Linked DNA regions of Homo sapiens. The protein of the gene in region 1 interacts with the protein of each later gene in a pairwise test. Each region holds a gene or a part of one and is shown in the gene's direction. Other genes may lie near its edges. The genes, in order: ZPBP and CALU.

The links.
Region 2: the proteins of ZPBP (region 1) and CALU interact in a two-hybrid assay, tested with the Homo sapiens proteins (one large-scale study listed by BioGRID and IntAct).

The regions. Positions count from the first base shown.
Region 1 is NC_000007.14:49,977,986-49,981,835, reverse strand, and holds part of ZPBP (zona pellucida-binding protein 1 isoform 1 precursor), read left to right. Parts: intron 1-3,850.
Region 2 is NC_000007.14:128,742,219-128,746,068, forward strand, and holds part of CALU (calumenin isoform a precursor), read left to right. Parts: intron 1-3,850. UniProt on the Homo sapiens protein: Involved in regulation of vitamin K-dependent carboxylation of multiple N-terminal glutamate residues. Seems to inhibit gamma-carboxylase GGCX. Binds 7 calcium ions with a low affinity.

The DNA.
Region 1 (3,850 bases):
ATAATTCATATAATTATATAATCTATATAATTCATATAATTATATAATCTATATAATTCATATAATTATGTAAAATTATAATATATAATATATAATATACCATATATAATTTATATTATATATAATATATTATATATAATTATATATATTATTATATATAATATATAATATATATTTTATATCAAGATATTATATAATATATAATATAATATAATATAATATAATTATATAATTTATATAATTATATAATATATAATTTATATAATTATATAATATATAATTTATATAATTATATAAAATTATAATATATATTATATAATATACCATATATAATTTATATTATATATAATATATATTATATATAATTATATATATTATTATATGTACATAATATATATTATATATATTTTATATTATATATTATATATATTTTATATATAATATATATAATTATATATAATATATATAATTATATATAATATATATTATATAATATATATAATTATAATATATATTATATAATATATAATTATATATAATATATATTATATAATATATATTATATCTGATCTATATTATATATAACATATATAAATATTTACAATTTGTATATAAATATATATTACATTATATATAACATACATTATATGATAGAAATAATCACTGATATTTAAAACCAGTGATTTTATATATATAAAATATATATAATCACAATTTTAAAAATAGTTACAAAGTTAACAGTTGGCAGTTATTTCTTTGTTTAATTTGTATTCTATTTCCTAATATAACTTTGTACTATATTTTTGTGAAAGTTCATATATTTAAATAACAAAACACAAAAAGTTATAAAGATAACTCTAGCCAAATCAAAGAAAACAAAGTAAAAGGAATAGTCAGTAGTCTATTTTATGAAAAGGCTTTTAATCTAACTTAAATTGCAGAAAGAAAGGAGAAAAGAACAATTAGAAATGACTTAATGAGAATGATATTGCTATGATTTGGCTATGGTTTGTTTGTTCCCACAAAATCTCATGTTTAAATTTAGTTCCAAGTGTGGCAATGTTGGGATGTAAGGCGTAGTGGGAGAGGTTCGGGTCGTGGGAGCAGATCTCTCATGAATAGATTAATATTCTCCCTCGGGGTGACCGAGTTCTAATTCTGTTAGTTCCTGTGAGAGCTGGCTATACAAAAGAGGCTGGCACCTGCCCCCCTCTCTGGCTTCCTCTCTCACCATTTGAGTTCTGCACACTCAGGCTGCCTTTCACCTTCTGCCATGGGTGGAAGCAGCCCGAGGCCCTCACCGAATGCCCAGTCTCAAACTTTTCAGCCATCAGAATCGTGAGACAAATAAACGTTTTTCCTTTATAAACTATCCAGGCTTAAATATCCTCTTATGGCAATATGAAACAGACTAAGACAGGTATAAATTTAGTGATATTAGTATAAATTTTTTAAACTCTTTTAAGACTGAAAAATTAATTTTTATATTATGTATTATATAATATATGTTATATATTATATATTTATATTATATATATTATATATTTATATTATATATATTATATATTTATATTATATGTATTATATATTTATATTATATATTTATATTATATAATTTTATATTATATAACATATAACATAATACAATTTAATTTTATTAATTAAATTATAATATAATATATAATTATAATATAAATATAATATATAATTATAATATAAAATTATATTATAATTATATATAATATAAAATTATATTATATATATTATAATATAATATAAAATTATATTATATATATTATAATATAATATAAAATTATATTATAATATATATAATATATAATATAAAATTATATTAATATATAATATATAATATAAATATATTAATATATATTTATATATTATCTAATATATGATATATATCCAGAACACAGATATGTAATATACATAATATGTAATATATAATATATTATATTATATTATATATATTTTATATATATATATATATATATATGTATAACTCCAGAACACAGATAAGGATAAAGAAAAACATAGAAATACCCAAAAAATAAACTGGAACATAGTAGTTAAGCTATTACATGTATTTATATCATTATTCAAAGAAGACTTAAACTAAAATTGTTAAAATATTTGCATCTCCTCAATTATAAGTATTTTGAAATTGTCAAACATAGCTCTTTCAAGTGAAGTAGTAGTTTTGAATGTCAGAATTACACATAATTTTATCATTAAAAATTTTTTTTGTATTTAAAAACTTTGGGTAACAACACAATTGTAATGTTTTCTAATTTCACCATGTAATGATTACACTCAACTTATTATGTACTACACTATTTGATCAAGGTAATTGTTTTTATTCTTGTCATAAGAAGTATATGAGATAATTTAACATGAATCTCAAAAATATTTTCTGTCTCTAAAATACTGTTTTGTGCTCCTGAATATTTGATCTCTGCCCACGGAGTTTATATACTTAGGAGATGCATCCATGAAACAATTAGGGAACAAGAGACTGTTAAGGGAAAAATACAAGAAGATTATATAAAGAAAATTGAGTTTGCAATAGGATAGATCACAAGGGTTCAATGTAATTGTGATACGGCTTTCTCGGTGAGACTTGTGTTTGAGTCTTGAGGAAGTTACTTTGCAGGATACCAGGATAGCAAGTACCATCCAAGCAATAGCATGAATGAGCATCAAGTTTATGGGGGGGAATTTTGCTTAAATAAAATAAAATTTATTTTTTGGATTTTATGGGCTCATCATCATTGCTCAATAGACTTATTAATTAGTGAGTTGCTAAATTTCATTTTGTGCCATCTTATGGTTAATAAACATTTTAATTTATAATTATCTTTGTGTTATCATTCCTGTAAGCTATTAAGCAAGATTCAGTTCCCTTAATGTAACATTCAGGACCCCATAGGATAATAATAATTTTTGTTTATTTTACAGGAGGTTATCACCCTAACGTTTTAGAAAAGCATATAACTACTCAAAAAGATACTTAAATAATTCTCTGAATAGAAAATGATTTAACAAATTACCCTGTATTTTAAATTAGGATAACACTAGTTAAAAGACAAAATTAACATAGTAAATGAATTTAAAATCCATTCAAGTATGAAACTGACTACTAGATAAAATGATGATGAGCTCACAAAATATATGAGGTATCTCATGAAACAACTTCTGTCCAGAATAAAATGATATACCATGTTTATATTCAACAAACAAGATTGAGACAAAGCATTTTATGACATAAGGGAAGTTTGTTTACTTTCTCCGTAGTAGGTGAAATAAGCACCAGATTTGTTCTTTTCCTTCTGGAAGAGAAAGCTTGTTTCCTTATAAATTAGTGAAGACTTAACATTTCCACCTATATTATTTTTCTTTTTCCTAACTTATTTAGTACTTTTAAATTAATTTATACTGAAAAGCTTCTCTGTGATTTGACATTTACCATTCCTTATAATGTACAACATTTTGTTAATCAGTTTTGGCACTTTAAAGAGAGACTTATTAAATGTGTGAATTATCAGTGTCTTATAATTTTATAAATTATATAATATACTACAACCAAAGACTAGCCTAATATTACGTTGTTTTTAAAAGAAGTTTGTGAAAACACAGATTCTGAAATGCTTTACTTTTCAATTTCTATTATATTTTTGTATAGCTTATATATTCAACTTTCTCCCATGTTATTTCTGCTAGTTTTTCAAAAAAAAAAAAACAAAAAACCAAAAACAAACAAACTTGTAGATCAAGTAGCATTCTTTGACATAATACCCCAGATCCCTTCCTATTTTTTTCTCTTTAAACTATGGCA
Region 2 (3,850 bases), about 79 Mb from region 1:
AACTTCATTTTCGAGATCTCATAACCTGGGCCTTAGTATAGTTAAATTGCTATCAGTCTGTTCCCTGTAATCTCCAATTGAAGTAGACAGTTAAACAATGAGATCCTGCTTTTGCTGCGTTATGGAGAAATAAATGCCTTTTCTGGTGAATATCCATCCAGCTCAGAGAACTGGAATTTTACTACCACACCCATTTCTCCCAATTGTTAACATTGAGCAATGGGTCTTTGGTCAACCATAATAACTGTTGGATCACTCAGTGTTAACGTTCTTGTGAAGTTGAATTTAAACATCTAAATTTCCCTGAAACAATTTAAGTATTCTGTGACCAATGGCACTTTACCAAAATTGAAAGTTTGGGCCATGTATTGCTCGCAATACTGGTCCAATGGATACACTATGGACACTAAGGACAAAAACTTCCTTGAAAGCTCTAAGTTCTTACCTGAAGGGTGGGGTAGGGAGAAGTGATAAGAATTTAGAGCTTTTAAGGACATTTTTGGATGGATCGAAGAAACCAATTCTTAAGACTCATTATTATTAAAATCACACTTAACCCAGTTAGGCTTTTCTCTTTATAAATTACTGGAACGATTCATGAAAACAACTTTATAGAAGACCATTATTGGTGACATACTAATACTACAAAAGGATGATAGCTACTGGATATATTTTCTGTTCTAATCTTTTGGTTTGTGTCTAACATGCTGTCCAATAAAAATATAATACAAGCCACATATGTAATTTTAAATTTTCAGGTGAAAATCTAAAACAGGTGAAAGTAATTTTAATAATGTTTAATCTAATACATATAAAATACCATTCTTTCAATATGAAATGTAACACTTATACCAATCGCAATTCACACTAGCCACATTTCAAGTGCTTAGTAGTCACATGTGGCTAGTGGCTACTGTACTGGGCAGTACAGGCCTAGATTTTTTTTTTTTCCCAAGAAAAAAATATTAGATGTTACCCTTCGTGGAAGAGGGACAGAATTTTAGAGAGAGAAACTCATTTGAGAAATGGGAGGTGGGGAAATTCAGTTTTCACAACCATTGGTTTACTTTCTAGATCACATGATAAAAGCTCATACAGCTAAGTCTTTTGTTTATGTGTATCATATTTTTCCTAATATTATGTTGTCCATTATGTCCATAGTATATCCATTGGACCAGTATTGTGATCAGTATGTATGGCCCAATGGATACACAAAGATCTTTCCAGCTGGAAGTGATCTGTACCTATTCCTCTAAACTTTTTTTTTACTTTTTGGACAAAAGTATCCAATTTAAACTTTTTTTTTTCTTTTTCTTTTTTTGAGACAGGGTCTTGTTCCCTCACCAAGGCTGGAGTGTGGTGGCATGATCATGACTCACTGTAACCTCGTGTCTCCGGGGCTCAGGCGATCCTCCCACTTCAGCTTCCCCGGTAGCTGGGACTATAGCTGCGCCACCACACCCAGCTAATTTTTTGTATTTTTGGTGGAGATGGGATTGCCTAGGCTGGTCTTGAACACCAGCATTCCATCCGCCTTGGCCCTCCAAAGTGCTGGGATTACAGGCTTGAGCCACTGCTGCTGGCCCAGTCTAAACTTTTATAAAGTGTTGAAGTGGGTGAGGAAAATGAGAAGGGCCATTAACTTTGTATCATTTGGTTTCAATTTGGTTGAAAAGACAAAGATGCTTCAGAAATGAAGTGTACTGGCTGGTCATGGTAGCTCACACCTGTAATCCCGACACTTTGGGAGGCCGAGACGGGAGAATCACTTGAGGTCAGGAGTTTGAGACCAACCTGGACAACATGGTGAAACCCTGTATCTACTAAAAATACAAAAATTATTCGGGCGTGGTAGACCATGCCTGTAATCCCAGCTATTGAGGAGGCTGAGGCAGGAGAATCACTTGAACCCAGGAGGTGGAGGTTGCAGTGAGCCAAGATCACACCACTGCACTCCATCCTGGGCAACAGAGACAGACTCAGTCTCAACAAAAGAAAACGAAGTGCACTAAAGTAGATTTTCAAATGCTGTGTATGAAGTTATTTTTTACTGTTCCTTTCACATCTTCCCACGTAAGATATCCTTTGTCTTAGATGTCCTTTGTTTCTGCTTGAACATACATGCTCCATACCAAAAACCATATGGTTTTAGATAAATCTAGTACAGTTTTTGGTATGGATGGTGTTTTTTGTTTTTAGTGTCTATATTCATAAAACAAGAGGGCTTTGTTAAAGTTTCTAATAGCCAGGAGTTGTTATATATGTGGGCACAAAGGACGTTTTGTTTTTTTTTAAGTAGAACTTCTTTAAAGTGCAGATTTTTCATTCCTCCCTGCAGAAAGATAAAGAAGTAAAGATGGACCATTGGCTTTGTCCATCTGGGTCCTTGATGACCGTTGTAGGCAGTTTCATCAATAGTAAGGAAGCCAGGTTTCAGGGTAGCATTGGACAGTGAGGAAGCAGAGGCAGCAGGGTAGAAACTGTGGGTGAGGGAAAGGGAGGAGCAAGCATGAAGGAACAGCACAGTCTGGGAAAGACTGTGGGTAGTGGAGACCTGAGAAGCACTGATTGACAGAATGGAGGAGCCTGTTTAAGGGATGAGATTGAAAGTTTATTCAGGAGAGGGGAAGGAAGGAGAAATGGGTGAGTGATAAAGCTAAATCACTTGGCTTCTACTCTTTGGAATTCTGGTATCCTTGTATCAAGATATTAAGCCTGAAACATAAATGTAGTTTTCCCTCTAAATCACAGAGTAAACCAATCTATTACATTTCTGTATGCTACATGTCTCAAAACTTGGTACAGTATCCTTTCCAGGACCAGATTATGTTAGAGTGCATAAGTATTTATTCATATTGTAATATTTGGGGTTGGCAAGAATTGTTAGGGTATTATGCTATATTTTATTTTGAGAATGTAATCATTTGTAAAATTTTCCTAAAGATAAAGTCCCCTTAGGCATAAGGAAAATCCTTTGTTGCAGTGACTCTTGATTTTACTTGATTCTGCAAGCCTCTGTCACTATACATATTGTTGGGATATATCCCAAAACATCAACAACATATAATTCTGTTTTTTGTTTCCAAAGTTTTGTTTATCTAAAGAATTATTTGTTTATAGGCTGGGTATGGTGGCTTACGACTGTAATCCCAGCACTTTGGGAGGCCAGGGCTGGAGGATCGCTTGAGACCAGTCTGGGCAACATAGTGAGACTCTACAACATTTTTTTTTTTTTAATTTGCTGTGCATGGTGGTACACACTTGTATTCCCAGCTACTTGGGAGGCTGAAGTGGGAGGATGGTCTGAGCCCCAGAGGACCAGACTGCAGTGAGCTATCATCACACCACTATATCTAGCCTGGGTGACAGAGTAAGACCCTGTCTCAAAAAAAGAATTGTTTATAGTTTGAGATAGAAGTTTCATTTTGCCCTGAAGTAAAGGCATACTCACTTTAATGTTGTATTTATAGAGCCGCTAAATCTCGGATTTTCTGTTTACTCTTTAACTGATTTGATTGATCAGTTGAATTATTGGAGGGTCAGCCAGAGTGTTGTTCACCCAGAGCAATATTTTACAAGTGGTGCACACAGAAAGCTAATAAACATGAGAGTGTGCTGTTCATACAAATTAGACAGTACAGCAGGATACAGTATTAAAGTTCACTTTCACACCAATCTTACCAGCCCACCCCATTCCTGTCTCTTCTCCCATGAACCTTGAGGTTACCACTGTTTACACATGGGTATTTGTCTTTGCACACCATTTATGTGCATGTTATATTTTATACAAATAAAAACAAGCTGGGGAGATTGTTTAATTTTGTTTTGCTTTTTATGTAAATGAGATCTT